Regions from separate parts of the Homo sapiens genome. Here regions 2, 3, 4, 5, 6 and 7 are each reported to be linked to region 1. The links are microRNA targets in miRTarBase. Many come from high-throughput screens and were not tested one by one. Region 1 holds a microRNA gene; each other region holds the end of a gene's coding sequence.

What was found. Region 1 holds the annotated microRNA hsa-miR-4310 (GCAGCAUUCAUGUCCC, at 2,952-2,967, shown strand). A microRNA usually pairs through its seed, bases 2 to 8, with sites in the 3' UTR of a target mRNA and lowers its output. Matches are read on the target gene's strand: a 7mer-m8 pairs with bases 2 to 8, a 7mer-A1 pairs with bases 2 to 7 and ends in A, and an 8mer does both.
Region 2: miRTarBase lists RNF8 as a target of hsa-miR-4310. Seed matches in the 3' UTR shown: 7mer-m8 at 1,943-1,949 and 7mer-m8 at 2,783-2,789.
Region 3: miRTarBase lists ZNF623 as a target of hsa-miR-4310. Seed matches in the 3' UTR shown: 7mer-m8 at 969-975.
Region 4: the mRNA of LRIF1 is a reported target of hsa-miR-4310. Seed matches in the 3' UTR shown: 7mer-m8 at 3,130-3,136.
Region 5: the mRNA of EFNA5 is a reported target of hsa-miR-4310. Seed matches in the 3' UTR shown: 7mer-A1 at 1,929-1,935.
Region 6: miRTarBase lists ADCY7 as a target of hsa-miR-4310. Seed matches in the 3' UTR shown: 8mer at 2,441-2,448, 7mer-m8 at 1,817-1,823 and 7mer-m8 at 1,011-1,017.
Region 7: the mRNA of GLP2R is a reported target of hsa-miR-4310. The part of its 3' UTR that is shown has no 7-base or 8-base seed match.

What each region holds. Positions count from the first base shown.
Region 1 is chr15:41,865,378-41,869,471 of GRCh38, reverse strand. It overlaps MIR4310 (microRNA 4310), which reads left to right and starts at 2,921; the gene lies at 2,921-2,977. SPTBN5 (spectrin beta, non-erythrocytic 5) reads left to right here. Exons shown (of 68, transcript NM_016642.4): 33 at 871-1,074; 34 at 1,254-1,403; 35 at 1,830-1,934; 36 at 2,346-2,513; 37 at 2,979-3,128; 38 at 3,243-3,434; 39 at 3,569-3,664.
Region 2 is chr6:37,389,971-37,394,050 of GRCh38, forward strand. It overlaps RNF8 (ring finger protein 8), which reads left to right. Exons shown (of 8, transcript NM_003958.4): 8 at 772-4,080. The coding sequence ends at 788. Among named protein-coding and RNA genes, the nearest start is that of RNF8, 38 kb to the left of the region's middle.
Region 3 is chr8:143,651,052-143,655,145 of GRCh38, forward strand. It overlaps ZNF623 (zinc finger protein 623), which reads left to right. Exons shown (of 2, transcript NM_001261843.2): 2 at 1-2,679. The coding sequence ends at 432. Among named protein-coding and RNA genes, the nearest start is that of ZNF623, 17 kb to the left of the region's middle.
Region 4 is chr1:110,944,164-110,948,163 of GRCh38, forward strand. LRIF1 (ligand dependent nuclear receptor interacting factor 1) reads right to left here. Exons shown (of 4, transcript NM_018372.4): 4 at 3,027-4,000. The coding sequence ends at 3,796. Among named protein-coding and RNA genes, the nearest start is that of LRIF1, 18 kb to the right of the region's middle.
Region 5 is chr5:107,377,931-107,381,930 of GRCh38, forward strand. EFNA5 (ephrin A5) reads right to left here. Exons shown (of 5, transcript NM_001962.3): 5 at 1-3,446. The coding sequence ends at 3,325. Among named protein-coding and RNA genes, the nearest start is that of EFNA5, 290 kb to the right of the region's middle.
Region 6 is chr16:50,314,982-50,319,075 of GRCh38, reverse strand. It overlaps ADCY7 (adenylate cyclase 7), which reads right to left. Exons shown (of 26, transcript NM_001114.5): 25 at 3,938-4,062; 26 at 941-3,717. The coding sequence ends at 3,571. It overlaps BRD7 (bromodomain containing 7), which reads left to right. Exons shown (of 17, transcript NM_013263.5): 17 at 1-3,119. Among named protein-coding and RNA genes, the nearest start is that of MIR6771, 24 kb to the right of the region's middle.
Region 7 is chr17:9,889,467-9,893,546 of GRCh38, reverse strand. It overlaps GLP2R (glucagon like peptide 2 receptor), which reads right to left. Exons shown (of 13, transcript NM_004246.3): 13 at 1,448-4,080. The coding sequence ends at 3,842. Among named protein-coding and RNA genes, the nearest start is that of RCVRN, 14 kb to the left of the region's middle.

The DNA.
Region 1 (4,094 bases):
GGGTGGAGAGAGGAGGGCAATATAGAAGCTATGGAAAGTGGAACTGCTGCCCTCATGGAGCCCTGCTTCCTGGGGAGATGAGCCCGAAACCCAGAGAATCAGACTGGGACAGTAGGTCCTGGCCACGGGGTGTCCCCGGCATCCCACTGTCCTGGGACCTGGCAGACCAGGAGGCCCAAACTGACACTGCAAAAAGGCTTGAGTTTAGGGACCTAACTCTGCTGATTTGCTAGCAGTGTGAGCTTGAGCAAGGCACTTAACCCTGGGTTTGTCATGCACTTAGAGTTTACAAGACTCTTTCTGCCATTTACCCTTCCTTCCTCCATGCAATGAGACATTTGGACAAGGGCCTGAAGTCCCTCCAGCACCAATCTTGTATAGTTGTACACAAATCAGCAGAAGACTGTAAGGGTTAAATTAGTAATTCAGAGAACAAGGAGAGCAGTGCAATGTCAAATACCAGGGAAGGCTTTGCCAGGCAAATGCGGCCAAGGGGCCTTTGAAGAGCAGGTGAACTTTCTTTCCCCATCAAGCAGTCTTGATGGGGCTGATCTTGCTAGCCGCCAGTCCTCTCATGGCCTCATCCAGGTGAGCTCTGTAGAGATGGGAAGGCAGGAGGAACAAAGGGCAGAGATGTGTCGTGGTAAGGGTCTGGCTCATGTAGGGGGTTCGTGGTTCTGGGAGGATCGGGTTGGATGAGAACGGAGAAACCAAGTGACAAAGGGCCACATGTGCCTCACCCGAGGCCCTGACCCAGGTCGGCTCGGGCTGTGTGAGTGGACTCAGGTGGGCTGCAGTTGCCTCAGCACCTGGTTTCCTGCTGCCCAGCCCAGCCCTCACCCGGCTCTCCCTCCGTGTCCCCGGGATCAGGTGCGTGACTATGCCTCCTGGGCAGCCCGCGTGCGCCAGGACCTGCAGGTGGAGGAGAGTTCGCAAGAGCCTAGCAGTGGCCCGCTGAAGCTCAGTGCCCACCAGTGGCTCCGGGCGGAGCTGGAGGCCCGGGAGAAGCTGTGGCAGCAGGCCACCCAGCTGGGGCAGCAGGCACTTCTTGCTGCAGGGACACCCACCAAGGAGGTGGGCCCCCTCCCCTGGTGCCCCCACATACCCTAGCTGACCAAGCCTGTGCCTGGCCACCTGGTGCCCCGTCCTACTGTGCCATGCTGGCCTCTCCTCAGGAGCTTCCCTCAGGATCCAGTCCTCACCTCACCCACACCACCCTCCCCAGCTGAGGCTCCTCATGTGTCCATCCCCAGGTCCAGGAAGAGCTTCGAGCCCTGCAGGACCAGCGGGACCAGGTGTATCAGACCTGGGCACGGAAGCAAGAGAGGCTGCAGGCCGAGCAGCAGGAGCAGCTCTTCCTCAGAGAGTGCGGCCGCCTGGAGGAGATCCTCGCGGCCCAGGAGGCAGGTCCCCTCCCGCCCTCACACTCCGCTCAGCCTCCTGCTCCTCCTTTCTATTCTCCTCTCTGCTCAGTCCCTTTCCTCCTGCCTCTCTGGCTTTTTCTCTAATATGAGGCAGCTGTGCACAAGTCCTTCCAGGTGGCCATGGTGAAGTGCTGAGGCCCCTGAGCGTCCACTGACATCCCCAGCCCCTATCCCAGACTGAGCCCCGAGGAAGTTGGCCAGAGGCTGGTCATGCTCCCCACATGGTGCAGAGGTTGAGGTATCGCAGCCTCCCAACCTGGACTCCCACTCCTCACAGCTCCATGCCAAGCTCAGTGGGCACTCCTAAGGCCCTGCCATACCCAGAGTGCCCATGGGCACAGACTGCAGCTGGAGGGGCTGGCTGGCTGGAAGGCTTGGTGGCCTCTGACTTTTCTGTGGATCCAGGTCTCCCTGAAAACCAGTGCCTTGGGGAGCTCGGTGGAAGAGGTAGAGCAGTTGATTCGCAAGCACGAGGTCTTCCTGAAGGTTCTGACTGCCCAGGACAAGAAGGTAATGGAGTCAGGAGGCCTGGGCGTGGTCAGAGTGTGGTGGTTGGGAGAGAGTCCTGAAGGGGGTCACGGGGCGCTTGGTGTGTTCCTGGAGGCAGTGCTGATGAGCCTGCAAGGCTGGGGTCCTGGTTGGGGTTGACTGAGCAAGTTGTATGTGTGGCTCAAGAAGAGGGCCCAGGGGGAGATGGGCCACACTGCAGAGACCCACACGGGGCATTTGGCTCTGTCCACACCGTGTGGTCCTTGGGGAGCAGACTGGTCTGGCTTGTGGCTGGGAGGATCAGATACCCCTCAGCCATGTGGGGCTGAGGAAAGGGCTCCGGGGCCCTCAAAGAAAGGACTGTGAGCCCTGCAGGCCAGGCCCTGCCCCAGCCCAGGGTGGGAGAGCAGCAGCTGTGCCCCTGCCCCACAGGAGGCAGCCCTGCGTGAGCGGCTGAAGACGCTCCGGCGCCCCCGGGTGCGGGACCGGCTTCCCATCCTGCTGCAGCGCCGGATGAGAGTGAAGGAGCTGGCGGAGAGCCGGGGACACGCCCTGCATGCCTCCCTGCTGATGGCCAGCTTCACCCAGGCCGCAACCCAGGTCAGAGGGCACCCCCAGCCCAGGGCCTTCCACTGGAACCACACTCGACAGTTTTCAGCCGCCTTCACACCGCAACACTGTGAGGCGGAAACAGGTTCGGGGGTGGATGGCTTTCCCAGAGGCTGTGCTGGAGCCCAGAACATGGGATCTAAGCCCCTTTGTGTGGAGACCTCACCAGTGTCCCGAGCTCTAGCAGCGCCAGGGCAAGAGAGGTGGGGAAGGGAGCAGAGCAGCCCAGGGCCCCAGGAGTAGGGGCCACACCTCCAAAACGAGAGCCCACCCAAGGCCCTGCCCGGCTGCCTCCTGCAGCAACCTTCCGGAGCTGGAACCTTCAGGGCTCATTTACCAGGTGCTGCCCGCCCCACCCCTGAGGCCAGCCTCCTGGGAATGGCTGGGGGCTAGGCCTGTGGCGTCTGGGGCCTGAGGCTGCAGAACATTGCAGCATTCATGTCCCACCCCCACCAGGCTGAGGACTGGATCCAGGCGTGGGCCCAGCAGCTGAAGGAGCCGGTCCCTCCTGGGGACCTGAGAGATAAGCTGAAGCCCCTGCTGAAACACCAGGCCTTTGAGGCTGAAGTCCAGGCCCATGAGGAGGTCATGACCTCTGTTGCCAAGGTAACAACCGGGCCCTCAGCCCCATGCCTGCCCCAAAGTGTGGCCCAGGGGCAATGTCAGTCTTAGGAGGAAGTGCAGCAGGCAAGATGTCCTGTGTCCCCTCTCTCCCTCCAGAAGGGAGAGGCTCTCCTGGCACAGAGTCACCCTCGAGCCGGAGAGGTCTCCCAGCGGCTGCAGGGCCTGCGGAAGCACTGGGAGGACCTGAGGCAGGCAATGGCCCTCAGGGGCCAGGAGCTGGAGGACAGGCGGAACTTCCTGGAGTTCCTGCAGAGAGTGGACCTTGCAGAGGCCTGGATCCAGGAGAAGGTGTAGCCCCAGCTGGGTGGGGGCTGAGAGATGGGGGGAGGAGCCCTCCCTTGACAGGAGGGATCCCCAGCAGCAGGTGCCAGGAGCCTGGGCTGGTGCTCACAGCGCTCCCTCCCCACCCTCGGCCTTCACAGGAGGTGAAGATGAATGTTGGTGACCTGGGCCAGGACCTGGAGCACTGCCTGCAGCTCCGACGGCGGCTCCGCGAGTTCCGAGGAAACTCGGCCGGGGTAAGAGGGCCTTGCTGGGTAGAGGTTGGCCATGCATCCCGCACTGAAAATCCAACTGAGAGCAGGGAAAGAGTGTGGGCTGTAGAGCAGGGCGTGGGCGCCATGCCTGCTCCTCCTATGCCCTCGGGCAGGCTCCCTCCTCTCACCCGCCTTCACTCCTTCCTCTTTAGAATGGGGGTAGCACCCACCTCAGAGGTAAGAGAGCACGTGTGTGGTGGCAGGTACGTGAATCTCTAGCTGTGATAAAACTGCATAGACCTATCCCCCACTGCCCCGCACAGATGCATACTTGCAAAAACTAATAAAATCTGAATGAGGTCTGGTCTAGTTGGTAGTATTACACCAACGTCAGCTTTGTGGTTTTAATGTTATCATTATATAGGATGCTGCTGTAAGGGAAGCTGGGGAAGGGCACAGGGACCTCTCTGCA
Region 2 (4,080 bases), not on the chromosome of region 1:
TTTGGTTGGTGACTTTATTGTGCCTTTGGCATAGGCCAGGATTCCCACAAGGAAGCGGACTATTGGAAAAGCCTGGAGGCTAGTAAGTAAACAGCCTTTCTTGTCCCCTCCCTCTCTGAACACAGGAAGAATTCCCGCCTCTCCCTGCCTATTCCTGTATATAATTCATTCCTTTCTTTAACATCTTTAACAGATATATTGAGGGCCAGATTTGTGCTAGGCACTGTTCTAGATGCTGAGAATGTAAAAAGTGAAAATCTAAGTTAGATGTAATTAATGCTATGGAGAAAAATCAAGCAAGAAGGGGAGAAGGGGTGATGGTGAAAGCCTTGGCAATTCTTGATAGGGTAATCAAGGAAGGCACCTCTGAGCAGGAACTATTTGAGGGAAGCTCTGAAGGAGGTGGCCATGCTGCCATGTAGGGAAAGAGGGAATGGTAAGGGGGAGCATGCTGGTATGTGGGAGGGGCAGCAAGGAGGCTAGTGCTGGGGAGTGGAGTGAGCGCTGGGGAGTGGGTAGGAGAGGAAGCTTGAGCAAGACGCAGATTTTGTAGGGCCTTGTAGGCCTTTGAAAGGACTTTGACTTTAACTCACTGTGAGAGGAATGAGGAGTGGGCTTTGAGCAGAGAGTGACATGATCTGACTTCTGTTTTCTCAGTTCGCTATGGCTGCTGTGTGAGGAAGAGACAGGGTGGCGAGGCTGGAAGCAGGGAGTCCACGGAAGGGAAATACAGGCTCCTCATTTATTTATTTCTCTTCTTTTTCTCCAAAGCAAAGAGATTGTTCTGAAGACCGTGCTCTAAGGGCATTTGAAAGACTGCCAGGTAGTGCGAGCCTGAGATGGTCTGGAGGATTCTCTCTAGCCGTGACTCCGCTGCTCTGAAGGTCAACTGAGAAGTCTTGTGGGACAGAGACTTGAGTTAGGAAGCCCTCAGTCACTTGCCTTCCACGGTGGCCAGCCCTGCTGCCATCATTGGCTGAAGCACCACCAGGATTCACGGCACCCAACTGCTTCAGGGTACTTCGTAGACTCTGCCTCACTACATGTCGAAAGAGTTATTTGAGTTCTCTTCTGTTTTTTTTTAATTTGTTGTTGTTGTTACTGTTTTGATACCTCGGAAACACCTCCGTTGACAGTTGTTTTGGATAGGTTGGGTGTACCCCATGGCTGCCTCTGAAGGCAGTGTCTATTTTGAGAGGATGGCTTACCTCTTCTTTGTGAAAATACTATCTCATTTCCTGGAAATAAAATGTAAAACCTGTCAGTTGCTCAGCTGGGCTTTGGTGTATTTACCTTCCTTCCCTTCCTGCTCCCAGACAGTCTCACAAGTAAACACCAGCAGCTCATAGATTACAACCAAGAAAGTGACTGTATCAGATGATAGACTTCAAGTGAATGTCAGCCTAAGAGGCCAAGCTGCAGATCGTGGCAACAGATGAGCTCTGTTAACCTCCTGACTGTCGTGTTTCCTTTTTATTACAGAGGTGGGTCACTGTTTACCTTGTTTCAGGGGTGGGAGAAACTCCTTTCCTTCAGCTGGCATTTGAATGTTTCCAAATCTATTTTATCTGACGTCATGAACACACAGGCAATGATTTTATGACAACTTGATGTGCTTTTTTCTTTATTTTTCTTTTACATTAGAAGTTTTCTCTCTTTTCTCCACCTCTCCTTTATTTTTAATTTTAATTTTAATTTTTGAAACAAGATCTGACTCTGTTGCCCAAGCTGGAGTACAGTAGTGCAATCTCAGCTCACTGCAACCTCCACCTCCCAGACTCAAGCCATCCTCCCACCTCAACCTCCCAAGTAGCTGGGACTACAGGCATATGCCATCACACCCAGCTAATTTTTGTTTTTCTGTAGAGACAGGGTTTCACCATGTTGGCCAGGCTGGTCTCAAATTCCTGACCTTAAGTGATCCACCTGCCTAGGCCTCTAAAATGCTGGGATTACAGGCGTGAGCCACCACGCCCAGCCTATACCCCATGTATTTTCATAAAGGGTTGGAAACTATTGATTGCCAACTTTTTAAGGATGGTAGGGATTTTTTCTTTGTTGAATATACTGTGAATTTTGGGATTCTGGAGTCCTTAGTCTTCATTTCCATTCTTCTGCCCATGATTACTGATCAAAATACTGGTAGAGTCATGGAGGAAGTAAGTTAAATGTGGAAAAAATGCTTTAAAAGTACTTACTATAACCACATCATAAGAATTCTGGAAAAATAGAGAACAAAAGGAAAAGATTGTTACCACCTTGATTTAATAACTTCTTGTTTCCCCATACATGTGTTTTGTTTATAGATTGCATGGGTATATGTCAATTTTTATATGTTCTGTGTTTAGTTTACATATTGTAATTCATTTTTAAGAGAGTACAGACATACACTTTTTGAGTAGGCAATATGTTCACATAGTTTGAAATTAAAGGTACAAAATGGCGTAGAATGAAATGCCTCTCACCCTTTCCCCACAGCGACTACTTCCCACTCAGAGGCAACAAGTATTACAGTTGCTTGTATATTCTTCCAGAGATCTCTGTCTATACAAGCAAAAACACATGTGGTCTTTTTCCTTGCTTTGCACAAATGGTAAACTGTACGCTATTCTGAACCTTGCTTTTTTCAGATATATGTTGGCAACAGTTCCATGTCAGTACATAGTTTCCTTTCTTTATTACAGCTGCCTGTTTTTTCATTGTGTATTTGCACCATCATTTACTTTTCTGGCTTACTTTTGATAGAAATCTAGGTTGGTTCAAACCTTTTTACTCTTAAAACAATGCTGCAGTTAACACCCTTGTACATATATCTTTAGAGAGAAGATATTTTAAAAAGAAATACCTTTTTAAAAATTATTTTATTATTTTTTAATAGAGACTATGTTGCCTAGGCTGGTCTTGAAATTCTGGGCTAAAGCAATCCTACCACCTTGGCCTCCCAAAGTGCTGAGATTACAGGCATGAGCCATTGCACCTGGCCAAGAAGAGACATCTTGACTTGAGCCTGAAGACTATGTACAGAGACTGACCTCACAGACTGACCATTCCATCCCACAGCTGCTGGACATAGAGTGATTTGCAGCCCCTCCTTTCAGAGTACCACATCCCTCTCAAGTGTTCCACAACATCTAGGAAAGTGAGCTCTTAAAGACAGACTAAAAAGAGTAATAAATCAATACAACAACATTAAAAGCCAGACTAGCGGAGTTTGAATCTTGGCCCTGCTGTTAGTAACTGTGTGAGCCTTGGGCAAGTTACTCAGCCTCCTTGTGTCTTGGTTTTGGTTTCTTCATCTCTAAGTAATTATATCTGTCATTATTGCCCTGATCACAAACAAAAGCCTGAATGTACTATGTTTAAAAGACAAACCAAAAATTAACCCAAACTTGCATTATTTGTCTGAGCTACAGAATGTTCTTTCCTTGGAGAGATATCTGATATTAAACATCATCTGCATTTTACTTGCCTAGAAAATACACGGTAACTTTTCTGCCTTGCAGCATCAAACTATAGTACAGCTGAGCCCCAGTGCTGTGCAGTCTGACTCTAATTAAAGGCACCTTCTTTACAGCAGGGCTCTGGGGAACTGGAAAAGGGGGTTTGTTTCATTATCTGGTTTTATTAAGCAGATGAATGCAGCCAGCTATATGAAGCACTTTGCAGTGAATGGCAGGTGTCCCATATCTGGTTATGTTAACCTAGAAAGGGCTCACTCTACCTCTAGGCATGTTTCATCCCAACAATCAGACTGTGCCAAAGCAGGGGACTTTGTCCTTTGTGGATTGCATAGCTGGATACCCATCATCTGTTTCTCTGATTGGAAGCTGCTGTTGTACAGAAAGACCTGCATTTCCCCCTTGTCTCCAGTTCTCTCACTACTTTTTCCTCCTCTGTGAGTGACCATCCAGGCAGTCACCATAACTGCTGGAGTGTCTGGGATTGGTAGCTCTCTCCAACTGCCTGCTTGCTCTTTACAGCCTCTCTCTGTGACTGGAATCTCTCCACCTCATCGTATCTAAGGATAACCCAGAAACATGGGGTGTCCTAGGTATGTTTATCTCGACACTGAACCCCCTA
Region 3 (4,094 bases), not on the chromosome of region 1:
CAGAAAATCCACACTGGAGAGAGAGTGTATGAATGTAAGGAATGTGGGAAAGCGTTTCTCCAGAAAGCCCATCTCACTGAGCACCAGAAGATCCACTCTGGGGACAGGCCCTTCGAATGTAAAGACTGTGGGAAAGCCTTCATCCAGAGCTCCAAGCTGCTTCTGCACCAGATTATTCACACTGGAGAAAAGCCCTATGTGTGCAGTTATTGTGGGAAAGGCTTTATTCAGAGGTCAAACTTCCTTCAACACCAGAAAATTCATACTGAAGAGAAGCTCTATGAATGTAGTCAGTATGGGAGAGATTTTAACTCAACTACAAACGTTAAAAATAATCAAAGGGTTCACCAAGAGGGACTCTCCTTGAGTAAGGCCCCCATACATTTGGGTGAGAGGTCTGTAGATAAGGGGGAACACACAGGTAACTTATAAAATAATTACTTTCCCGCCCAGTGAGTGATGTTTGGAAATGCGTGGAATTAGGATTCATGTGGTTTCTAAGATTTGGACATGTCAGAATTTTGTGAGTCATGGATGGGGCTGCTTTTGCAGTGGGTGCCACCTGCCACTGTGCAGCCCTACTCGGCTCAGCCCTTCTCCTCAGCTGTGAGCACTGTCCTCAGGAGAGTCACAGGGCTTGACACCTGACTCTGAGCTGGAACAGTAGGGGCAGGGAGAAGACAGGTCTCAAGAAAAGGTTTTTAAGAAGTTTCATCCCCAGTTAAGCAGAGTCCATCCTTGACTTAAATCCCTTATTACAGCACAACTGTGTATCTAATCTTACGATTTAGGAGAATGTTACCTAGGACATTTTGATGTGTTAAGTTGAAGAAAGGTAACTCGTGTATGAACCCCGAGCCATTTCCCTGTTGTCCTGAGGAGGAACTCCAGGCCTCCCATCGTGTGCCCTAAGGCCTCCTGCGTCCTGGAGCCCTGCCTCCCACTGCCTGACTTCCTGCCACACGGTTAATGCTGCAGCAACACCGACTGCTTCATCTTCCCTGTGCTCCACGTGGCTTCCTACCTCTCTCGCCTTTGTTCTTGTTGAAGGGTCTCTTCTCAGCTAATTAACTCTGAATCATGGTTCAAGACAAGCCTCAGGCATCATGTCAATGGGTGTTTCCCTCAAGCTTAGTTGGCAGCACTCTCCACACTTCTGTGGCTCAGTGATTACTGCTATTACTATATTTACTTGCATATGTCAGAATGATGTGATAGACTATCTCTGTCACTATGCTGTTGGGTTCCTGAGGACAGTGATCATATCTGATTGATTTCCATGTGTCCACTGTCTAGCACAGGGCAATAAAAAATACACCCCTAAATCTATGTGTAATTGGCATCTCTCTTGCTTTGTCCTTTCTATACTGCCATTCTAAAAATTTTCAGCTGTTGGCTGTTTTTTTTGTTGTTTGTTCATTTTGTATCAGTATAATCTACGATTCTGTTAGAAGTATCTTCTCAGCCCTGCTACTGTCTGCTGCTCCTACTTAGAAGTTGCAGGCAATATCCTGTGCACATCCACGCCCTCCTGTGTGCCACCTTACAGCTCATGCAGAACTGTCTACTTGATCTGGAGGGCATTGACACCTGGCTCAGCTGGAACAGTGGGGACAGGAGGAGGCAGGTCTCAAGAGAAGGTCTTTACTTACTTGTCTGTATCTTTCTGTCTCACTCGAAAGGCACAGTCTCAATGCGCTACGTAACTCTTCTGTTGTAGCAGTTCTGAGGTTGAACTGAGCTCTTGTCATTTTCCATGCTCTCTGGCTCATTGTGTCATTTCAAAATGTATTGATATCTATAAGGAATAGTCCTCAATGTTGGGAAAACAGATGAGCAACCCACTACCCTGAAGTCATCCACCGTGTAGTGGGGAAGACGGAGATCACAGTAGGGTGAGTTAAGTATGTGCCCTCAGGTGTGAAGGAGCACAGGTGAGGGGGTGCCTGCTGTGGCACAGAGCTGGGAAGGCCTTACAGAAGAGGTGACATTTCAGCTGGGCCAGAGATCAGTAGAGAGCAGCTGAAGAAGAAAATAGGGTCCAGGAGAGGAATCTGCAGAAACATGGAGCCATGACAGATGGCTTTTTGGCTAGGACTGTTCGAAAGCAGGCGAGGTAAATGGACAGTGGACAGCCGCCTCGCCAAACTGTTAGTCTTTACCTCTGAATTTCATCTGGACATGAACCCCAAAGTCCAGTTTTGTAACGATATAATTTTTTTCTCATGAGGCCATATTTTGAGTTCTTAAATACTACCAACCCTGAACGTCTCAGGACAAATAATTCAAAAAAGAGATCTACATTTTCTGGAAAATCAGCATTACTAGAGATGTTTCAAATGTAGATTTTACCAGACCATTTTAATCAACTTTATTGAGATTCAATTTTCATATAGTAAAACGCCTATTTAAGTGTACAAGGTTTTGAAAAATCTATACACCTGTGTAACCACCACCACCTGTGTAACCACCACCGCCAGAACCAAAAACGTTTCTGTCACCCAAAGAAGTTCCCTTTTGCCTTTTCCTAGTTAAGCCCACTCCAGCCCCAGATAACCACTTTCTATCCTCATAGATTAGTGTTGCTTGGTTTAGAGCCTCATACAAATGGATTCATTTACTATGTGTTCTTTTGCGTCTGATGTCTCACTTTGGCATGTTTTTAGACTCATCCAAGCTGTTTTGTGTTTCAGTAGTTCTCCTTGCTGAATAGTATTCCATTGTGTGGATAAGCCATCATTTGTTTATTCATCCATGTGTTAATGGGTTTCCAGTCTCGGCTCTTAAAACTATGAGCATTTGTGTAAAAGTATGTATTTGCACATGTGTTTTTATTTCTCTTGGGTAAGTACCTAGGACTTTAATTGCTGTGTTGTAAGTGTCTTAGTTCATTCAGGCTGCCATAACAAAATACCATCAACTGGGAGGCTTATAAACAACAGAAATTTATGTTTTACAGTTCTGGAGGCTGGGAAGTCCAAGATGAGGGTGTCAACATTTGGTGTCTAGTGAGGGCCTGCTTCCTTTTAAGTAGATGTCTTTTTACTGTGACTGCACGTGGTGGAAAGGGACTAGCAAGCTTACCCCATTCATGAGGGCTCTCCCCTTGTGATTCTGTCCCCTCCCCAAGACCCCACCTCATATCATCTTATGGGTTAGGAATTTGACATGAATTGTGCAAGGATGTAAACATTCAGTCCATTGCAATACGTGTTTCTAACTTCCTAAGAAATTGTCACACAGCCCTCTGTAGTGGTTGAATCATTTTACACTATTACTACATTATGGGAAGATTCCAGTTGCTCCATATCTTTGCTAACACTTGGCATTGTCAGTCTCTTAAAATTTAATCCACTCTAGCCTCCTTATGATTTTAATTTGTATTTGCCCACTGAATAATGTATGTCTATGATTTCATCTGCTTATTGCTTTTCCGTGTCGTCTTTTGTGATGTGTCTGTTCGTGCCTTTTGCCTGTTTTTAAGTTGGGATGCTTATTGTTGACTCAAGTTCTTTCCATATTCTGCATGAAAAACATACATGTAATATATAGAATTCTTTGTCTCCATTTGTGACAAATATTGTGAATATTTTCATGTTTGGTTTGCCTGTTCATTTTCTTAATGGTGTCTTTTGAATATTTTTTATTAAGCCTAATTTATCAAAGATTTGGGTGTGGTGGCTCATGTCTGTAATCCCAGCACTTTGGGAGGCCAAGGTAGGCAGATCACCTGAGGCCAGAAGTTTGAGACCAGCCTGGCCAACGTGGTGAAACCCCGTCTCTACTAAAAATACAAAAATTATCTGGGCGGGTGGCACACCCCTGTAGTCCCTGCTACTCGGGAGGCTGAGGCAGGAGAATCACTTGAACCCAGGAGGCAGAGGTTGCAGTAAACCAAGATAATAATAATAATGATTTATGATATTTTATAATAATTTGAGTTTAAGAAATTTGCCTACTCAAAGGACATGATTTTTTCCTATGTTTTTTATTTTTATGGAACTTTTATAGTTTTACCTTTTACATTTAAGTCTGTGATCCATTTTGAGTTCATTTTTGTGTACCATATGTGATAAGGGTCAAGATTCACTTTT
Region 4 (4,000 bases), not on the chromosome of region 1:
GGTCATATTTGGAGTATTTTGAAAGCAGAACCAACAAAATTTGTATTGGGTGTGAGGTGTGAGAGCAAGGAGTAAAGCATGACTTCAAGATTTTGCCTGAGCAACTGGTAGGATGCGGTTGTCATCAGCTGAAATGAGAAAACCTGTGGGTGCAGCTAGTTTGAGGGAAGAGCAAGATTTCTGTCTTGAACATAGGTTTGAGATGTCTATTTAGACATCCAATAGAGATATTAAATAGGCAGCTGGAATTCAAGAAAGCCTGGAAATAAAAGATAAAAACTGCAAGTTGGCAGTACATTGATAGTACTTAAAGCCATGAAACTGGATGAGATCACCAAGAGAGTGAGTATAAGCAAAGAGGCAAACCGTGGACTGAGTCCTCAGGTGTTTTAATGTAAAGAGATTAGGGAGAAGGAAGGGATCAGCAAGGAGACTGAGAATGACTAGTCAATGAGGCAGAAGTGTGGTCTTTCAGAAGTGAAATGAAAGTATATCAAGGAGAAAAGGAGTCAGGACAAATAGCTGGTCTCTAAATCAATGTCATTAAAAATTTTAAAAACAAAACCACTCACTTAAAAGCTCTACAGGGTATAACAGCTAGATAAGACACATAGACCTAGATTTAATACTGCTTTAGAAAAACCAGTGGTAAAAAACGTTTTGAGGCCAAATTGGTAAATTTAGCTTTAGTATTAGAGATGAAAACACTGAAAGGGAAAGCTCAAGGTTGCTGTTTTTTTTTTTTTTTTTAAAGGTATGTTCTCACTCTGTCAACCAGACTGGAATGCAGTGGCATGTTCACAGTTCACTACGACCTTGACCCACTAGGCTCAAGTGATCTTTCCACCTCAGCCTCCCAAGTAGCTGGGACTACAGGCACATGCCACCACACCTGGCTAAATTTTTGGCAAAGATGGGGTCTATTGCCATTGCCCAGCCGAACTCCTGGCCTCAAGTGATCCTCCTGCCTCAGACTTCCAAAGTGTAAGGATTACAGGTATGAGTATGCCAGGCCAATTCTTGACTTTAAAAGCAGGATTCAGAATAGTGTAAATAAGGACCTCATTTTGATCAAAAATATATGTATGTATGACGCACACAGAATGATCAGAAAGGATATATAAGGTATTAGTGGTAAACTTTGGATGGGAATATGAAGTTCTAGTTTTTAATATTTTGCTTGCTATATTTTCAATTTTTAATATTTCACTTGCCCTTCCCTCCCCCTCTTCCTTCTTCCGTTCCTCTTTCCCCTCCCTCCCTCCCTCTCTCCTTCCTTTGAGACGGAGTCTCATTCTGTTGCCCAGGCTGGAGTGCAGTGGCACCATCTCCACTCACTGCAACCTCCACCTCCCGGGTTCAAGCAATTCTCCTGCCCCAGCATTCCCAGTAGCCGAGATTACAGGCATGCACAACCATGCCCAGCTAATTTTTCTACTTTTAGTAGAGACGGGGTTTCACCAGTGTTGGTCAGACTGGTCTCAAACTCCTTACCTCAGGTGATCTGCCCACCTCGGCTTCCCAAAGTGCTGGGATTACAGGTGTGAGCCACTGCGCCTGGCCTATATTTTCTACAATACATTTGCACTGTTTCTATGACAGAATGTTTCAACATTTTTCAAAGGAAGTGATGATTCATGAAATTACATTCTGCTGATAAATCAAGAAGACTGACAATTGACTACTGAATCTAGTAATATGGAAGTCACTGGTGACCTTGACAGTATGTTTATGTGGTGTGGGGAGAGCAAAACCTGACTGAAATAGTTTGGCAGTTCCTCAAAACATAGTTAAACACAGTTATTGTATGACCCAGCAATTACAGTCCTAGGTATATACCCAAGAGAACTGAAAATATATACCCATTAAAAAACCTTGTACACAAATATACACAGCAACATTACTTGTAGCTGCCAAAAGTGGAAACAATCCAAATATTCATAACGAATGGATAAAATGTGGTATATCCATGATGGAATATTATTCAGCAATAAATAATGAAGTGCTGATAAATGCTACAACATGGATAAACCTTGAAAACATTAGACTAAGTAAAAAAACACCAATCACAAAGAAAAACATATTGTATGATTCCATATATATGAAATGTTCACAACAGGCAATTCCATAAAGACAGAAAGCTTTTTAGTGCTTGCCTATGGCATAAGGAGAGGTGATGGGGAATGACTGCTAATGGGTATAAGGTTTGTTTGGGGGATGTTTTGAACATTTTGAAAATGTTCTAAAATTATAGTGTTGATGGTTGTACAACTCTGTAAACATATTAAAAACCAGAGAACTGTGTACTTTAAAAAGCTGGATTTTACAGTACATGAATTATATTGCAAAACAGCTGTTAATAGAAAGCAGCAAAATCTAGCTGATCTGTGTATTTCACTTCTTTACAGTATTTTCTGATTTACTCTTTTGTTGCCATTGCACAGATTTTTTTTTTCTTTAACCTCTCTTACTTCCAGAGATTTGATCCTTTTTTTTTTTTTTTTTTTTTTTGAGACGGAGTCTGGCTCTGTCGCCCAGGCTGTAGTGCAGTAGTGGCACAATCTTGGCTCACTGCAACTTCTGCCTCCCAGGTTCAAGCGATTCTCCTGCCTCAGCCTCCTTAGTTAGGATTACAGGTGCCCGCCACTGTGCCCGACTAATTTTTGTATTTTTAGTAGAGACAGGGTTTCGCCATGTTGGCCAGGCTTGTCTCAAACTCCTGACCTCAGGTGATCCGCCCGCCTCGGCCTCCCAAAGTGCTGGGATTACAGATGTGAGCCACTGCACCCGGCCTGATCATTTTTTAATAACATTGTTCTCCTCCTCCTCCTTTAAGAGACAGGGTCTCACTGTGCTGCCCAGGCTGGCCTCAAACTCCTGGGCTCAAGCAGTCCTCCCCACTCAGACTCCTGAGTAGCTGGGACTACAAACACACCACCACGCTCAGCTAACTCCCCATCTCTTAATCCCTATCCCTACACCATTCCCAAACTTTCCCAAATCAAAGATTAACCAGACAGAGAAAATACACTTTTACAGTTTAAGAAATATTAAATGTGATAACTGTTCAGGATCTACTTTTTACACAATCTCAGTAACGTATGTACATAGTCCCAAAAAAAAAAAAAGCAGCATTTGCCTGGGAACACATCACTATAAGCAAACAAAACATCAAATGGCCTGAATTCTAAAATACCTTTGGATTATATAAAATTACATTGTAAAGTTACAAATGTTGCTCATTCTTGAGAAATGTTTGAATGTTTAAATAATGTTGCCATAATACATATTATTTCACGACATTAAAAAAAACAATGGTGAATACAAGGTATCATCATTTTAAGGGTAAAGAGATAAAGCAAGTACATATACAAATCCACTGGAAAAGCTAAGTTTGGAGCTGATTTCCTCTCTTGAATTGTAAAATTTCAGTAATACACAGTCACTATCTACTGCTGGAATAATGCCTGAGCAATTTAGGTAAAGATACAAACAATAACAAAAACCCTGCCCAAATATTCAAACTTGGAGAATTCTAGTTAAAATAATAGAAAAATATAAAATTTATCCTTCCAAAAAAAGGTATCTAAGACAAAGGTATAGATACCCCATGTAAATTATTCACAAGTCATATGTGAATCAACCTTTTCTGTATTCCTTAAAGTTGTACAATCGACTGATGAAAAAACAAGCTTCATATTCAAAGACACTTTCAGAACACACCTACAATTAACTTATTAATGCTGAAGTATATTTTAAAAAACAGCTATTTCACTGAAGTCTTTACAGGAGATTTTATTTTTGGTGCATCTTCTTACGCATTTCTTCAAGAGCTGCTTCTTTCTCTCTCAGCACCTGCTTAAGTCTTCTTATTTTTTCATCTCGAATGGTTTCTTCTAACTCCGGTGGTGTCACTGGGAAAATATCTTCGGTATAATTTTTATTGAAGAAATGACTTTGTTCATAAGCTGCATTTGAATTCAAAGTGCCTTTCTCTTGC
Region 5 (4,000 bases), not on the chromosome of region 1:
AGGTCCCAAGATGATGGAGTCATAAGATTGGGTGGGCAATGACCACACATGAGTCCTGTATGGAGCAGTGTCTCAGCCACTTGTGACTCTTTTTTTCAGCCATGGTACACATTGGATGTTTCAAAGCCTCAATGCATGTTTTGTATCCTGAAAGTCTATTGTTCTCACTTACAAAAGACATAAGAATCAAATTAATACTTTATTATCAAACACTATGTACAACAGAGGTTGCTAATAATACAGAATTTAAAGAACGCAGTTTTTTTTTTTTTTTTAATGTTTTACTTTTCTTTCCTCTGCCACCCAAGAAAGTACAGTACAAAACAATAGTCTAAACTAACACGAACTGTTACCTGGTCTATTAAAGGATACACGGTATCCACTAAACAGACAGATCCTTATTTCCCTGCTTGATGTTGCAAAGCCCTTGGCAACCAGGGGCAAAGGTCACTGGGGTTTGACTAACTGGGGCTGAGTGGCAGCTATGACTGTCCTTCAGATTTTTGAGTTGTTTTTGAAATTAAAAGCTTCTAAAAGTTGCATCAACATCCTCCTAAGCCCCCAGAGGATTGTAACACCACCACAAAAGGCCACCAACACTTTTTAAACAAAGTGAAAACTGTCTGACACCAATCATCTTGAAAACTCCATGGCAAGTGCATTAGCTATGATTTCATCACTTACAGGTAGAGAAGCTTACTGTCTACTGGTGTGGACACTCTTGCTATTTTCTTTATACTTAATTTGCAGTGGCAGAATGGTGAAGTAAAGGGGTCTAATTTCACTGTGAAAAAATGAAAGACAATGGCAGAGAGGGCCATGAGTAATTATTTCACCATTTGTTAGAGACAAATGCTAGGAAAACCACAGAAGTCACCATTTCTAAAATGCATTTAGCACTGCTAACATAGTTATGACTAACTGGAATCATGACAGGATCATTTGATTTCCTTGTGGTTATAGAACATGCTGTATTATTTTGGTTCTATTGATCCATTTTAGAAGGTATCTTTCTCCCCCTACCCAAATCCCACTGGACCAACAAGCCTGTAACTATTAATTAAAAAAAAAAAAGTATTTCTGCATATGACTGAGAGTACTGCATATATAAATAGCTAAAGGAAAAAGGAATTGAATGCCGTGAACTTTTGTTTTGGTGAAATGGTGGCTGCCTTCTGTGATAAGACTCTGCCACTCCAGAGGAGTTCCTTATGTCAGAGGGGAATAGGATTGATTGTATCTGTGAGGCTGGCAACCCCACACACATGGTTCCATGTGAGAACAGACTCGGCAGTGACATCCACTCCAAATGGATCAGGTAAGCCCAGATTACATTTCAACATGTGTACAACTCTCCAGGGCACAATACGTTTACAGCTGCCTTTCCTTCACATACTTTTCTAATTCAGAACTACTCACAATTCTAAGCAAATTCCCATTCACGAAGTCTGTCCATAATGCGACCTTCTCTTTTTTTAACATATACATCTTAAAAAACAAATATATAAAAAATTCTTATTTTGCTGGAATGCTTTCAATTTTTCACATTTTACATGATCATCACATTTATTTCTTATATTGAAAGGCATGGTTTCTGTTGACATGTCGTGCAAAGCCAAAAAAAAAAAAAAAAAAAGGGCTGGATTGCTTTTCAATTGGTCTAACACTTTTCCTTGTCTAGGCTTTGGATTTTAAAGTTCATGACAGCCCCACCACCAGTAGAAACCCCAAGGCTTGCATTTCCTGGTAATCGACTGGAAACGTCCCCTGTTGGCCATGCTAAGATTCCTTCAACAGGGTCATCCTGCATTTATTCTCCTTCTGCCCCACCCCCACAATGAAACAAGATAGCCCCCATATTTCTAAATGTATCAAGGGATACCACTTTTTCTCACAAGTTTAAATAGGACAAGCATATATACTCACTCTCAGCATAAAGTATATCTAAATAATGTATTTTCTATTCTAGTGGATTTTTAAAAAAATATTTTGTTAAAGTCTTTGGGACTCCATCTTGTTTATCTCCCACAGATAAACACATGTTCCCCCTACGCTTTAGGCTGTGTCAGAAAGGGAAAGAATATAAAATCAACACTTGAATTTTTTTACTCCAAACTTTGGAATTTTATTTCCAAATTTCCCTTTAGCCCTCCCAAGTAGTGCTGACTGACTCTCCTGGTGACAGGGGTTTGTGTCCGAGCCCCTGCGGTCAAGGAGTGTGGAGCAAAACGTGGGTACTAGGGTGGGAGGCGGGGAAAGGCCACAGCACACTGGCGCTCCAGCAAAGCCAAATCATGTCTCCTCTGGCCACTGCGGTCCTCTCCTTGGTACATGTCATCCCCCAGAGGAGTATCCAAAGCTATTCCACTATGCACTCATCAACCCTGGCTTGTCAGCCTTGGGGAAGGTCACTTTATTCATAAAAATGCCTCTTTGAGTTTCTTAAAAAAAAAAAAAAAAAAAAAAAAAAAAAAAAAAAAAGTTGTAGCACCATGGTGATCTGTATTCAAAGAAAAAATATCTGGTGTGCACTGCCCAGTCACCAAAAAAATTAGAGGCACTCACACATACACACCCCCAGCAAACCTGTAGTTTTCTCTGTTTTCACACCTGCTCTGTATTAGCATTCCACACCCAACCTGCCTCCTAGAAAAAAAAAAAAGGCTTCTTTTAGAGAGCACAAGTTTTGCTGTCAAGAATGCTTTAAGACAGTCATATTAAAAAAAAAAACCAGTGTCTCAACCTTTTAGAAGCCTGTTCATTTACATACTCCTATAGGAAATGGTGTAATATCGTATCTATTCTTAATACCTCCCCTCCGGACCTGACATGGTGACATGATGCCCTGCGCGATCATCTTACAGTTCTGAATGAGAAGGCATAAATATTGCATAGGAGAGCAAAACCCTCCCAGCCCTAGCCAGCGCTGGCTGCATCTGCCACTATTCTTCCTTGTCCATAGCCCGCTGACACAGTGCGCTAACGGAGGTGAGTTCTTAGAGGAGAATGCACAGGAGCTGACGAACCACTGGTGTCACTATGACAATTTGGCATTTTCATCTGGAGTCCATTTAATTTGGGAGGGGTGAGAGAAGCCAAGGGCCAGGGCTGGGGGTGGGGCGGGGTGGGGTGAGGGAGGCAGGAACAAGTTTAGGCCCCCAACCTGAAGTTGTTGCTTAGAATTCAGGCTGAAAGAAAGAAAACAAAAATCTGACATCTGCCAAAACCCAATAACAAGTCCCTTCTTAGGATGAGCAGTTAGGTGGATCTCTGGTGTTCCAAGACCCTGATGTTTTCTGTGACAAGTGATGGGAGGAGACTGTGCTATAATGTCAAAAGCATCGCCAGGAGGAACAGTAGGATTGCCAAAAGGCGGCTGGGTATCCTTGGTGTTTGTGCCGCGTTCTCGCCGCGGGATGGCTCGGCTGACTCATGTACGGTGTCATCTGTTCAAATAGAAAGCACACATTCCAATGAGATTTCACATCCTTAATAACTCTCTTGCAGCAGCCTGCTGTTAACAGACCTCGCCACCCTCTGCAAAGTAGGGTAATGAACCTTGTGCCACCATTGACTTTCATGTCTGCATAATCACTCATTATTTACAGCAAACAAAGAAGAGGCAAAGAAAATTGGACTTTCTCAGCAATATTAATACTTTCCTTAAAAATTGAGGGGAAAAATTATGCATACACCGTAACCTTTGGCCTGTGAGCTGCTTTGGTTAGCCAGCAGTCAGACACGCCTTGCACAAATTTCAGATATCTGAATGTACCTTTGAAACCTAAGATGTCACAGGCAAGCAAGTGACATGTTGGTGGGGGTGGGGGAAGGGGCAGTTATGTTGGCACAGTAGTGGTTAACCAGAATGCGCTGCCCATTTCCCTTCTTTTAGCTGTTTCATAGGATTAGTGTTGAATGCCTGGTTGTTGGATGCCTAGACGAATTTTCAAACATGAAAAACTAAATGCCAAAACAGCAGCATTTTGGATAAACTATA
Region 6 (4,094 bases), not on the chromosome of region 1:
AGGTTGGACTTGTATTAGGTAATAAAGCTGGACCTGGGACTCGTGAGGAAGGAATGTGCTTGGGGCTGTTGCCATACCTGTGCAGCATTCTTTCAAAATAGTGCCTTCCAATGCTTCTTCCTTATGTCCCACAGACAGGATCATCACTAAGAAGCGTTCTTAAAACGGCCCCATCCAGTGAGATTTTCCGTTATACGAACATACTTGAAATAATTTTAGAATTTACTACTGTGGTTCTGCCCCTGCATACCCAGTGGGAATGATGCCCTTGTATGGGTAATTAGGCACCTCCCACCCACCCCTGACAAAAGCACACTGGGAGTTTTATAGCACTGTCACATGGCTAGTGTTCTTTTTTGGTTTTTTCCGTTTTTTAAAGAAAGAGGAGTTACTTAGTACTATAGCAAAGTAATAAGCCAAATAAGATAAACTAAGTCATCCTTGAATAGATCAGGGAATTACCAGATTACCAAAAGGTGACATTTCTACTTTACTTACTGTTTATCTGAAATACAAAGGTCAAGTACCCAAGGAGTTGAACTCTAAGTAGGAGACCACAAGATTCATGGCCCCCTTTTATCAGCAAGCTGAGATAAATGGTGATTTTGCTGAATCGGTATAGAACCTGTTATACACAAGGGAAAAAAATCAGGATGGAGATAGATAGATAGATAGCCTTGTTCAGTGAACAAATTAAGTTTGAAGGCCCTTATACAATCCTTCTATAAATCACCCAGGCAGGAAGCCATTTGATTTCTATTATTTTCCTGACTTTGAAAATTAATTAGTATTTAGGAAGAACAAATAGGGTAAAGGAAAATTAATTCCCTCAAAAGACTTAAAATCTTATGCTAAAAGAGTCAAATTTTCAAGTTGTTTGAGTCTACTTTTAATCTCTAGTGAGTTCATGAGGACCACGAAAATAAAATACCTTCAGATATTTGAGTTTTTCAAATTGCTAATTTAATGTATAAAAAGCAGCTAAACACTGGTACTTTATAAAAATGAAACAGCATTTTGAAACAAATGTTACAGATCTATAAATATTCATTATATAGAATAAACCCTAGTTACTTGCATGCACCACCTCAAATCATATTTCTTTACACTGACCTATTATATACACAAAGTATACAGTGGTTAATGATCTTCTCTTCTGTTTGTTTGTTTGTTTGTTTGTTAGGAAATTTCCTCAATAAGCCAGAAAACCTTAGGTATTATTTTCACAAAAGTTAACTCAGGAGAAATTGTAAGGAAGTCCTTGACCCATGGAGAAGGTCACTGTTTGTTTGTTTGTTAGATACGTGTGTCTGTCATAAAACAAAATGACACCAGTAATTACTTGGTAATTTAAAAACAAGTTCATAAAAAGAAAATACCTGCAGGTAATTTTTATGGTCAGTTATATTCTATAACCTGAACACTGAAAACTAAAAACTTTTACTTACAAACTATTATTATCTGAGCACAGCACAGTGCTTTGCTTTAATTGGAAATAAAAATGCATGAGTGAGTGGTAGTCAGTTATTTGTTAAACTCCCAACTGGGGTTTCTGTTGTTACTGAAGAAAAAAACAAATATTCCAAGAGTACAAATATGCTGACCTCAGAGAGGCCCAGTGCACTAATGTGTTTCTATGTTATATTAGCAACAGAAACCTTCCTGACTTGCCAGGAGAGCCCCCGCCGGGCAGCCCTGGTCACTGCTAGATCTTGAGAGCACAGATTTCAGTATAGTATTCATGTGAAACCAGCCCTTCATGTAAAAAGTTTTGGTGTGTAAAAAAGGCAACTTAAGCGAGGCTAATTGCCCTTACCAGCATTGTTGCCATGAAATTCCTTTATACAGCAAGTTCTTCTATTCATACTGATTCCACTTATGTGCAGCACATGAGAGCTGCCACTAGTCTACCCAGCACCTTTGTGCAAATTAGAATACACCTGCCCTTCCTCGGGCTGATAAAGCCACACGACACAGCACAGGCAGACAGGTTCAATTTTCGTTCCCTCCACCGCCACCCCCGCACTTAGCTGTACTCTTAATTTGCAGCCCGGGGCAACTCATCCCAGGACCCCAACAAGTCTGGTCAGTCACCCAATCTGCAACCCTGTATAATCATCTTGTAAAGGCTCCTGTATGCAAGACTTTGTGTAGAACTTTACGGGGTTCATGGGGACACCTAGCTAAGAATCCCTGCTATGTAGGGAAACTGAGTGCATTAGAAATCCTGGCGATGCTCTGGTGATGAGGCCACCGGTTAAGTCTTCCGGTTATGAAGTCCATTCAGAAAAAGTCACGGGCAGTTTGGTCATTTCTCACCCTGTTGTTACAGTTAGGTTGACTTTCAATTCCTTGGGAAGTTGAAGCACAGTAAGACACATCCCCAAAACCTGGCTTTTTGCATTTGCCTTGACTCACGCAGTTTCAGAGCAAGAACGGCTCAGCATTTGTGAGGGGGCGGGCTTCCCAGATCCAGGAGCCTCTGCATGCACCCATGCGGAGTAGATCCTTCTAGTTTTGAAGCTCTCCAGAGTTAGCTGTGAAGACTAAAGGAAAGAAGAGATGCACTCACAGGTTGTCCAAGTTGTCTCTAAACAGACTCCATTCCTTTCTGGTAAGAAAAGTAAGATACAGTTGAAGGACGGCAGGGGAGAACGCAAAGATGTGTGAGTAATCAAGGAAGAGGTGAAAGGCCGCACCTTACTTTCAAAGCACCTCTCTCCAGAATGCTTGCCTCACAAGCTGCCTCATTCAAAGGCAAGGCTCTGCTGCTCCCCGCCTTCTTGCTGTGACCACATTCCTCAGGACTCTATCCCCACAGCCAGCTGACCCCATAAGCTGATGCTAGACAGTAGTCCTCCTTACATGTCAGTGGTTAAAAAGGCAGAGCATACACTGGAGGGAAGAGATTTATGTCTAGTGTCTGAAAAGTCATTCAAAAGGATAAAAACCCCATTAATGTATTCATTTAAAACAAACATGCCAGACAAGGCAAAAAGTAACAGTGTTAATTGTGGTGTTTTTCTCTCTACCTGTTTGAAACCGTTTACAGATGTAAAACACCCCTTTCAGCTTCATTTACCAGAATGCCTCTGTGAGAAATGCTGTCATTGCCAGGCCCACCAGGGAGAGGGAGTCTCCAATCCGTGCTAGACAGCTCAGCTTACTCCCCCTTGGTGTCTAGAAAAACAGACCTCACTTGTGCGTGCCCACAGGCCACTGAGGTGGAAGTCTGTTTTCATCATGTGCTAAAGTTGCCTGCCTGGCACCTCAGGGAACAAAGATCTCAAAGTCAGCCCCGAACCAGTGAACATTCTCCAGCTGGCCTGGAAACTGTTACAGACCAGGCACAGAGCTTCTGGCCTCCCCTGCGCATTATGGCTCAGTGGCTGCTTCGAGCCAGAATCTGGTGCATGTGTCTGAGAAATCCTCCAGTGCAGGTCCAAAGAAGCCAACATGCACAGCCATCTGCATGCCTTTGGGATTGGCGTGGGGCGGAGAGTCTTCTCCTGGGCTTGCTTCAGGGAAGGAGACTGGCTTCCCGGCCTTTTCGGAATCCAGCAGGAGCCCTCAGTTCAGCCCCAGCCCCTGAAACTTGGCAGTGTCCGTACAGACAAAGTAAGTCCTCAGCTCGCCTTTGCCTTTGACGTTGATCAGGCCACGGCATTCACAAGAGTACCCGAGGCCCTGGAGGATGGTGCAGGTCTCCTCGGTAACCTGAAAAGGAAGAGAGACCTGTTGTCTTCAGAGGCGGGAAGAACACCTGTCATGGTAGGGACAGATAGAGACTGCCCAGGCATGCAGTCTGCCTTCCCTGGAGAGTGTGATAGCTAGAACCATGGCTGCTGGGTGAGACAGCAGCTCTTAAGTCCAAGTCCCCTCACCTCTGGGGAAGATCTTTTCCCCTTAGTCAACTGCTTCCCCAATAGGTCTTTACCTGGATTTTCCCAAGTTCTCCAGTGCTTTCCATTCGGCTGGCCACATTGACAGTGTTTCCCCAGATGTCATACTGAGGTTTTCGGGCCCCAATCACTCCAGCAATCACAGGCCCATGGTTTATGCCTGAAGATGATGTTTACAGTTACCCAAGCGTG
Region 7 (4,080 bases), not on the chromosome of region 1:
AGCATTTTAAAAAAGGAATTTCTGACACACACTACAAGGTGGATGATCCTTGAGGGCACTATGGGAGTGAAATAAGCTGATCACAAAAGGATACATACTATACAGTTCCACTTATAGCTGATGTATCCAGAATAAGCAAATTCACAGAGACAGGAAGTAGAAGTTGTCAGGGGCTTGGGGAGGAAAGAATGGGAGGCTATTGTTTAATGGATGTAGAGTTTCAGTTCAGGAAGATGAAAGAGTCCTGGAGATGGATGGTGGTGACGGCTGCACAACAGTAAGAAGGTACTTCATGCCACTGAACCATACACTTAATAATGGCTGGCCGGGCGCGGTGGCTCACGCCTGTAATCCCAGCACTTTGGGAGGCCAAGGCGCGTGGATCACCTGGGGTCAGGAGTTTGAGACCAGCCTGACCAATATGGTGAAACCCCATCTCTACTAAAAATACAAAAATTAGCCAGGAGTGGTGGCAGGCGCCTGTAGTCCCAGCTACTCGGGAGGCAGAGGCAGAAGAATTGCCTGAACCTGGGAGGTGGAGGTTGCGGTGAGCCGAGATCACAGCACTGCACTCCAGCCTGGTGACAGAGCAAGACTCTGTCTCAAAAAACAAAAAGAAAAAAAGATGGCTACAATGGTTAATTTTATGTTATATATATTTTGCCACAATTTAAAAAAGATCACTCAGGAACTTATAAAAATCCCAATGCCCAGGTCTAGTAAGACCATTTCAATCAGAACCTCTGGGGTCAGACCCTGTCACTGGTCTTTTAAAAAAGCTTCCCAGGGGGCTGGGCGTGGTGGCTCACACTTGTAATCCCAGCACTCTGGGAGGCCGAGGCAGGCAATCACCTGAGGTCAGGAGTTCAAGACCAGCCTGGCCAACATGGTGAAACCCCGTCTCTACTAAAAATACAAAAAAAATTAGCTGGGCCTGGTGGCTCACGCCTGTAGACCCAGCTCCTCGGGAGGCTAAAGCATGAGAATTGCTTGAACCCGGGAGGTGGAGGTTGCAGTGAGTTGAGATCATGCAACTGCACTCCAGCCTGGGAAACAGAGTGAGACTGGGTCTCAAATAAATAAATATAAATAAAAATAAATAAAAAGCTTCCCAAGGGATTGTAATGCGAGGATTGAGAACCACTAGACTAGATCTTCAAAGCAACAGGCAAGCTGAGTGACCAATGGGGTGGTCTATAAAAGGGGAGACACTCTCCTTCCATTCTTTTGACCTCTGACCTCTGCTTCTGGTCCCGGCCCCTCTGCCCACTCCTCTGGTCCCTAAGACCAAATTTAAGATATTGGAGCACCCAGGTCCCTGGCTAAACGCCACAGCCCTTTTCCTCACTTCTGGCCAGGAATAGTGCATCGCATTCTTCATGGGTGGGAGAGACCTTCAGCTCCAGTGAGAGACAAATGTAAAAGAATCAACAAAATGCAAATGAAATTAAATAAACTTGTTTTAATCATTAGCAGAACAAGAGCAAGCAGTAAGTGTTGATCACCCCATTTGTGGAGTGAGGGGTGGAGGGAGTATTTATAAATGCTTTGAAAAAAAGTTTCTCCTCTTAGCGGTAAGGTCCTGGATCACTTACTCCCAGCAGCATCCGAGGCTCCCGAGAGCCATTTCTGTGCTGTCTCATTCCAGGAATGTGTGTGGAGCACCTGCTCTGAACCGGCACTGTGCTGGGTACTTGCTGGGAATACGAGATGACCCCAGCTTTCTAGGAGCTAATTGGCTGATGAGCCGAGGCAGGGACATTTGCAGAAAGGAGAAAAATAGAAAGACATAGATTTTCATGACTGAGCTATGGATAATCTGGACACCAAAAAATAAACCTTTGCTTCATTACTTGCCTGATGCCTTTGCCTCCATCCCCATCCTAAAACCAGGGCTGGACTATGGGGTGACACAAGTGGGGATCCCATTTCAAGTGCAAAATTTAAGGGGGCCCCAAAAGTCCCCATAGTCAATATAAATAACATTTTAATGCAATTGTCTAAAAATAAAAATTCACATTAAAAGTCCCTCATAGACAACATTTGAAAGTCAGGACCAGAGCCTGCACTTGCAAGAGCTGGCCTCTCCTGCCTCACCCTTATCCTGCCCCTGGCTCCAATCAAATTTCATTTCTATAAATGGCTCATGGGCTGTAGTTTGTTAATTTGTTTTTTTAGAATATTGCATTAAAATATGATTTATTTTGATCATTTACTTTGAGCTTTTTAGAGATGAGTGCCTTGATTATTTCACCCTAGTCCCAGCCCTGTGGCAAAGTATCCTTGAAAACAGAGATGCCAGTAAAAGACAAGATGCATGATTGAATTCCAATCTCAGATTAAATATGCCCATGGGATATACTTATACAAGAAGACTATTTGTCTGAAATTCAAATTTAATTGAGTACCTTGTTTTTGTTTGCTAAATATGGCAGCCCTGCTTGAGGAGTATCAAACTGACTCCCCCGAAGACAAGGTGGTATTTAGTCCCATAGCAACATACCCCACCCACGTACACATGCATTTTACATACCATGAAAGTGACACTCCTGTGCATTAACACACTGTTTCCAAAGGATGTCCATCCCTTGATCTTCCTACAGCCTCTTGCCCTATACTTTCAGTCATTGAGCCTGACCCCAACTGCCTGGGCCCTCCTCAGCCTCCATGGGTCACAGTAGGCAGGAAAGATCCCACAGGCTGGTGGATGCAAAGTCTTGGATCTCTCAGAGCCACCCTGGGCATGTCCAGATCCAGCCAAACTCCTATTGCTTTACCTGGGCCCTCCTGCTTTCAGTATTTATTCCCACTGGGCAAATTGAATTCTGATCAGCAGGGACTCTGGCCATGGAGAGTTATAGGTCAACTTCCTGGGACAACAGGTGTGACAATCAATGCATCAATGGCAAACCAAAAATGGTGGGGACATTCCTTGCCCCAAGAGAATGGTAGTGTAAATCAGGCTGGTAGAAGCCAAACTCAGAAAGGTAGATAGAGCCAGAAAGGAGAGGAACAGACCAAAGACGACATTCAGAGGGTCCCCAGGCACTGGGGCCAATCCTCAAAGGGAGGATCAAGCAGAACTCCTGCTGTGCAGGGACAGAGAACTGAGGCAAAGAGAGAGAGAGGCAAGACTTGATAGGAGAGGAAGAGCAGAGAGGAGTGGCACTCTGGTGGGTGGAGTTACATACTCTCCAAGGAGGGCAGGCACACCCCAGCTGACCTGGGAGAGCAGACTGTCTCTTGCAGCATCCTGCCATGGCCACATGGGGGCGCTTCTAGCTCCCTCTCACCCTGCCCAGTGTTCTCCAAGGGTGGGCTTGCAGCAGAATTACCTGGGATGCTTATTAAACAGCTCCAATTCCTGGCCATGGTCCCAGACTCACTGTCTTAGAATCTTAGCCACAAGTCTAGGATTCTGCATTTTAAAAGCTTCCTAGGAGGTTTTCACGCACCCTAAACCCAACCTCAGATGGAAAGCATGCACCCCAAGGGATAAAGGAAGAGATATTGGCTGGCTTCTCTATAACAGGAGACCTCTCTTCATGGTGGGACTTCATTGGCTTGAATTTAGAGCCAGGCCCTAGGGTCTGGTGGGCATTGTGGAAAACACACTGGTGGGGGTTATTAGGATGAGAAGAGCAGGCAGAGGCTGTGAGCATGACACACAGCCTCTTTCATACAGAGCTTGAAGAACCTTGTGATAGCTTTCATATCAAAGTGGCATGGTGAATGGAACGAGAATGATTCCGTGCCCAGCAACGTGTGTCCTGCTTTGCTTCCTCTTCCTGGGCCCCCTCAAGAGTCCCTGGGAGCAGAGCCAGGGTGGTGGAACTCCACCCTAGATCTCACTCTCTTCCAGAATCTCCTCCATGGTGTTGGCCATGGTGACATCCCCCTCACTGCACTCGGACAGGCTGCTGCCCCGGGGCCAGCGTGCATGGTCCTGTTGGGGCTGGGCGCCCAGCTCCCCAAGACCTCGCATGGCTAGATGTAGGAGCCGCCCACTGTTAAGTGAGGGCTGCAGCTTCCGAAGCTTCTCAGCGCCATCTCCTTCCGAGAGCTTCTTGGGACATTTTC